Linked DNA regions of Homo sapiens. The protein of the gene in region 1 purifies or fractionates together with the protein of each later gene. This does not show direct contact. Each region holds a gene or a part of one and is shown in the gene's direction. Other genes may lie near its edges.

The links. The genes of interacting proteins can lie anywhere in the genome.
Region 2: the proteins of SCN2A (region 1) and ATP1A3 purify together in Homo sapiens (affinity purification with mass spectrometry; one large-scale study listed by BioGRID and IntAct). This does not show direct contact.

The regions. Positions count from the first base shown.
Region 1 is NC_000002.12:165,385,914-165,389,413, forward strand, and holds part of SCN2A (sodium channel protein type 2 subunit alpha), read left to right. Parts: intron 1-832; coding exon 833-1,103; intron 1,104-2,715; coding exon 2,716-3,500. UniProt on the Homo sapiens protein: Mediates the voltage-dependent sodium ion permeability of excitable membranes.
Region 2 is NC_000019.10:41,977,231-41,980,730, reverse strand, and holds part of ATP1A3 (sodium/potassium-transporting ATPase subunit alpha-3), read left to right. Parts: intron 1-1,932; coding exon 1,933-2,125; intron 2,126-2,404; coding exon 2,405-2,580; intron 2,581-2,658; coding exon 2,659-2,795; intron 2,796-3,500. UniProt on the Homo sapiens protein: This is the catalytic component of the active enzyme, which catalyzes the hydrolysis of ATP coupled with the exchange of sodium and potassium ions across the plasma membrane.

The DNA.
Region 1 (3,500 bases):
ATATTTACTAACTGTCCGTCATAACATGATGGTGTTCTGTGCACTGAGAACATAATACGTGAGTTTATAAAACCTGGTATCAATGTGAGTATAAATAAAACAAATACATTTGAATACAGTTGAATATACAATATACAAAATTTTCTTCCAAGTATAAAACGAAAATAAAATACACTACTTTCTTTAATAGAATAGAACATTGTAATAATGTTCCATTGCATTTGACCCTCACATAAATGCTATGAGGTAGCATTAAGAGATAAGATTTGAGGCTGGGCATGGTGGCTCATGCCTGTAATTCCAGCACTTTGGGAGGTCGAGGTGGGCAGATCATTAGGTCAGGAGTTTGAGACCAGCCTGACCAATACGGTGAAATCCCGTCTCTACTAAAATTACAAAAAGTAGTCGGGCATGGTGGCATGTACCTGTAATCCCAGCTACTCAGGAGGCTGAGGCAGGAGTATCGCTTGAACCCGGGAGGCAGAGGTTGCAGTGAGCCAAGATCGTGCCACTGCACTCCAACCTGTGCAACAGAGCGAGACTCCATCTCAAAAAATAAAAAAAATTAAAAAAAAGAGAGAGAGATAAGATTTGAGATCTGACATGGAGCTTCCCTATTTACACTACTTACCTGCTTTGTGACCTAAGGCAAGTTACCTCAGCTCTCCAATCACTGGTTTTGCAAGGAATTTTTTTTTTTGTAAAATGTTGTGAGGATTAAAGATGTGTTTTTATAAAAGCTACATTTTTTGTTGCTTTCTTAAAATCAGAAGAATTGAATTCGATTTTTTTTAAGGTTTCTAATGGAACTTTTACATATTATTTGTTCCAGAACAAATTCCAAGGAATGGTCTTTGATTTTGTAACCAAACAAGTCTTTGATATCAGCATCATGATCCTCATCTGCCTTAACATGGTCACCATGATGGTGGAAACCGATGACCAGAGTCAAGAAATGACAAACATTCTGTACTGGATTAATCTGGTGTTTATTGTTCTGTTCACTGGAGAATGTGTGCTGAAACTGATCTCTCTTCGTTACTACTATTTCACTATTGGATGGAATATTTTTGATTTTGTGGTGGTCATTCTCTCCATTGTAGGTAAGAAGAGGTGCTTTTATTCAGTTAAGGAATATAGTGGTAAAAATATGTGTTTTAAAACTTTAGAGGTGTTTTTCACTAATCTTTCTCATTCATCCCAAACTCCCAAATAAAAATCTAATAGTCCATTGTTTTAGTTTTAGTTTGCCATTTCTCTAATTGCATGCTGTGCTTGAAATGATGAGTGGAATACAAGGAATTTATATTTTCAGCTTTCATTTATTCTCATTTAATATTTTCATCTGTTCTCATCTCAGAAGACAATAACTGCAACTTTGGTAGAATAGTCTTGTACCTGGTCATACTCCTGTGGTATTGACAGTTACTGCTTTGAATAAACAATCAATCCACACACATATATACATAAATCATTTGAAGTAGTCACATAATTCATAAATATGACCTCTTAAATAATTGGAATAGTGTATATGTGCAGTTATATATATAATAACACATATATAAGTTTCATGTTATCTTTGGGTGCAGACAGTTTTCTGTGGTTTGCAATATCTCTTTTTGGAAGCAGATAGTTTGTTTGAAAATCCAAAACAGATTTGTTATCATCAATGATACATTAATGTTAGGATACATACATACATTAAGTCCTAGGAATGCAAAAGATTTATTGGAAAAAATATATATATACAGTGTTTATGTATAAGATATTAAATGAGGTACTGGAAGTAAATATAAGAAGATTTAAGAGAAGGTTCTACCTATTTGGGGAAACAGAACATTCACATGGAGGGGAAAATTATATAGCACTCTTTAAACTACTTTCTTTAGTCGAATAGAACATTGTAACAATGTTCCACTGCATTTGATTCTCACATAAGTGCTATGAGGTAGCATTAAGAGGTAAGATTTGAGATCTGACCTGGAGCTTCCCTATTTACACTACTTACCTTCTCAGTGACCTAAGAGAAGTTACCTCAGCTCTCCAATCTCTGGTTTTGCAAGGAATTTTTCTGTAAAATGTTATTGTGAGGATTAAATCAGATTATGTATATATATGCACTTAGCACTGTGCCTAGCATGAAGAAAAGACTTAGTAAATGTTCAGTTTGACCACAAGAAAAAGTTGATATTATCACCATTTACTCATGCATAAAAGCAAGTGCCAGGATTCAGTCCCAAGTACATCTGTCTCCAAAGCCTATGTTTTCTTCTGTACATCACGCTGCCTACTCCCAAATAACATAGAATCTCAGAAAGTAAAGAACTCTCATATTCCTGACCCAAAATCATACACCTTTAGTTCTTATGCAAATACTAGAACTAGTATTTTGGACATATAAATTAATTTCTGTACTTGGCCACTGTATGCTTCATGATGTCTTTGGACCTTCCAGGGTTGAGTCATTTTTTTGATAGATGCTTTCCTTGAACTAGGAAAAATGGCCCTTATTATCTTCATTTAATATAAAGATGTAAATGTTATAACACCAAACATACCAGTTTCATTTTGCTCAACAAACATTGCAGATTATTTGCATATATACATGTACCTAACTGTCCTGTTCACATTTTGTAAAACTAATGTACTTATGTAAACTTTCATTTGCTACTATTAAGTATAACAATATTTTTGTTATTTGTTGATTTTCTACAGGAATGTTTCTGGCTGAACTGATAGAAAAGTATTTTGTGTCCCCTACCCTGTTCCGAGTGATCCGTCTTGCCAGGATTGGCCGAATCCTACGTCTGATCAAAGGAGCAAAGGGGATCCGCACGCTGCTCTTTGCTTTGATGATGTCCCTTCCTGCGTTGTTTAACATCGGCCTCCTTCTTTTCCTGGTCATGTTCATCTACGCCATCTTTGGGATGTCCAATTTTGCCTATGTTAAGAGGGAAGTTGGGATCGATGACATGTTCAACTTTGAGACCTTTGGCAACAGCATGATCTGCCTGTTCCAAATTACAACCTCTGCTGGCTGGGATGGATTGCTAGCACCTATTCTTAATAGTGGACCTCCAGACTGTGACCCTGACAAAGATCACCCTGGAAGCTCAGTTAAAGGAGACTGTGGGAACCCATCTGTTGGGATTTTCTTTTTTGTCAGTTACATCATCATATCCTTCCTGGTTGTGGTGAACATGTACATCGCGGTCATCCTGGAGAACTTCAGTGTTGCTACTGAAGAAAGTGCAGAGCCTCTGAGTGAGGATGACTTTGAGATGTTCTATGAGGTTTGGGAGAAGTTTGATCCCGATGCGACCCAGTTTATAGAGTTTGCCAAACTTTCTGATTTTGCAGATGCCCTGGATCCTCCTCTTCTCATAGCAAAACCCAACAAAGTCCAGCTCATTGCCATGGATCTGCCCATGGTGAGTGGTGACCGGATCCACTGTCTTGACATCTTATTTGCTTTTACAAAGCGTGTTTTGGGTGAGAGT
Region 2 (3,500 bases), on another chromosome or scaffold:
ACCGTGTTAGCCAGGATGGTCTCGATCTCCTGACCTCGTGATCTGCCCGCCTCAGCCTCCCAAAGTGCTGGGATTACAGGCATGAGCCACCGCGCCCGGCCTCAGTAAACTTTTTTTTGAGATGGAGTCTTGCTCTGTCGCCCAGGCTAAAAGGCAGTGGTGTGATCTTGGCTCACTGCAACCTCTGTCTCTGGGTTCAAGTGATTCTCATATCTCAGCCTCCCGAGTAGCTGGAATTAGAGGCGTGCACCACCACACCCAGCTAGTTTTTGTATTTTTAGTATTGATGGGGTTTCATCATGTTGGCCAGGCTGGTCTTGAACTCCTGACCTCAAGTGATCCACCCACCTCGGCCTCCCAAAGTGCTGGGATTACAGGCATAAGCCATCATGCCCGGCCCATTCAGTATACATTTTTTGACCAGCCACCACATGTTAGGCCCTGTTTTGGGTGCTGGGTGTACACACAGTAGTGAGTGACATGGTGAAGTCACCCCTCTCTGAGACTTACGCTCTGGTTCTAGAAGACAGACAATAACAAAGGCATGAGGAGGTAATCGTAGTGGTTGTGGTGCTGAGGGAGGGAACCCTGCAGGTGTCTGGGGGAAGAGCGCTCCGGTAGCAGGCACAGCCTGTGCAAAGGCCCAGAGGCGGGAGTGTGCTGACGCATCTGAACACCAGCCAGCCAGCCAGTGCAGAGGGGCTGGGAGCCAGGGAGCGTGGTGGGGGTGGTGGGTGCTGGCCAGATCCTGTCAGGCCCCACGGGCATGGAGAGGACTTGGCTGTGACTCTGAGGAGCACACAAGCCTCCAGGGGGCTCTCAGCCAAAGAGAGACAGGAGTTGACTCAGAGCTTTTAAAATAACTTTATTAAGATATAATTAACATACCATAGCTCGTCCCTCTAAGTGTATAATTTAATAGTTTTAGTATATTCGCAGATATAGGCAGCCATCCACATAGTCAATTTTAGAGCATTTTCATCACCTCCAAAAAGAAACCCCACATCTCTCAGCTGTCACCCGCCCCCTCCTCCCCGACACTCCCAGCCCTAAGCAACCACTAACCTACTTTCTGTCCGTATGGTTTTGCCTATTCTGGACATTTCATAAAAATGGAAGCATACAGCTGGGTGTGGTGGCTCACGCCTGTAATCCCAGCACTTTGGGAGACCGAGGCAGGAGGATCGCTTGAACTCAGGAGATGGAGACCAGCGTGGGCAACATAGGGAGAGCATGTCTCTATAAAAAATTAGCCAGGCATGGTGGTGTGGACCTGTGGTCCCAGCTACGTGGGAGACCGAAGCGGGAGGATCGCATGAGCCTGGGAGATCAAGGCTGCAGTGAGCTGTGATCTCGCCACTGTTCTCCAGCCTGGGTGACAGAGTGAGACCCTGTCTTAAAAAAAAAAAACAGGGTGGGAGGAGGGGAGCACAGACGTGGTGGCTTATGCCTGTTATCCCAGCACTTTGAGAGGCCGATGAGGGCAGATCACTTGAGGCCAGGAGTTCAAGACCAGCCTGGCCAACATGGCAAAATCCCGTCTCTACTAAAAATACAAAAGTTAGCTGGGTGTGGTGGTGGTGCCTGTAATCCCAAGCTACTCCGGAGGCTGAGGCAGGAGAATTGCTTGAACCCAGGAGGTGGAGGTTGCAGTGAGCTGAGATCGTGCCACTGCACTCCAGCCTGGGCAACAGAGCGAGACTCTGTCTCAAAAAAAAAAGAAAAAAGAAAAAAAGAAAAAGAAAAAGAAATATATATCCATGACATAGACAGAGCGGACAGGAATGAGCAGAGGTCTCTGTGAGAGAGTGTGGGGGAGCCCTGGTGTGGGCCTATCCTGGCACCCGTGGCTCTGGACAGGGGACAGGATGGGGCAGGGAGCTTCCTGGTGTCTGCGTGGCTCAGGCACGCCACCCTCTGATCGGTCCCCAGCTCTCCATCCATGAGACCGAGGACCCCAACGACAACCGATACCTGCTGGTGATGAAGGGTGCCCCCGAGCGCATCCTGGACCGCTGCTCCACCATCCTGCTACAGGGCAAGGAGCAGCCTCTGGACGAGGAAATGAAGGAGGCCTTCCAGAATGCCTACCTTGAGCTCGGTGGCCTGGGCGAGCGCGTGCTTGGTGCGAGGCTGCCGGGCGGGCTCTGGGGTCCCTGGAGGGCAAGGAGGGTTGTGATGCTGCCCAAAGCCTGTCTCAGCCCAGGGCCTCCCAGAATATACTGTAAATGAATGAATGAATGAATGAATGGATGGATGAGAGGGGAAGGTATCCTAGGAAATGAATGCTGACTGGCCGTCTTGCTGATGGGGAGATGGAATGCGGGCGATGCAGACATCTAGGGGCATGGGGCGGAGGTTCCGAGGCTGGGACCCTCACACCCCAACCCTTCCCTGCCACTAGGTTTCTGCCATTATTACCTGCCCGAGGAGCAGTTCCCCAAGGGCTTTGCCTTCGACTGTGATGACGTGAACTTCACCACGGACAACCTCTGCTTTGTGGGCCTCATGTCCATGATCGACCCACCCCGGGCAGCCGTCCCTGACGCGGTGGGCAAGTGTCGCAGCGCAGGCATCAAGGTGTGGCTTGGGGTGGCTGGGGGAGGCAAAGCCAGGCGTGGGGCGGGAGAGGCCATCCCTAAAAAACAATGCCTGCAGGTCATCATGGTCACCGGCGATCACCCCATCACGGCCAAGGCCATTGCCAAGGGTGTGGGCATCATCTCTGAGGGCAACGAGACTGTGGAGGACATCGCCGCCCGGCTCAACATTCCCGTCAGCCAGGTTAACCCCCGGTGAGCCACCCATCCCAGCCAGGGCCCTGGACATCCCTCTAGGGTGTTGACACAGGGGGACCGCTTCCCCCCAACCTCCCTCTGCACTGCCTGTCCCATTCTTTCTGGGACTCCTCCATGGACCAGGCCCTGGGTCTGGCCCTCCCTCCGGTGTGGGGACATTGCAGCCACAGAGGTAGCCAGGCATAGGTTTGCATCCCAGCCTTTATTTTATTTTATTTATTTATTTATGTTTTTGAGATGGAGTCTTGCTCTGTCGCCCAGGCTGGAGTGCAGTGGGGCAACCTCAGCTCACTGCAGCCTCCGCCTCCCGGGTTCAAGCAATTATCTGCCTCAGCCTCTTGAGTAGCTGGGATTACAGGGGCCCTCCACCATGCCCCGCTAATTTTTTTTTTTTTTTTTTGTATTTTTAGTAGAGACGGGGGTTTCACTATGTTGGCCAGGCTGGTCTCGAACTCCTGACCTCAGGTGGTCCACCTGCCTTGGCCTCCCAAAGTGCTGGGATTACAGGCGTGAGCCACTGCGCCCGGCCTGCATTCCAGCTTATACCGCTCACAAGCTGTGTGACATTGGGCAAGTCCTTTAGCATCCATGAACTTCAGTTTGCCCATCTCTAAAATGGGCTACTAATAATTCCTATCTCAGAGGATTCAGTAGAATCCAGTACTTCTGTGTCTGTCTCTCTTTTTTCCTGTCTGTCTGTCA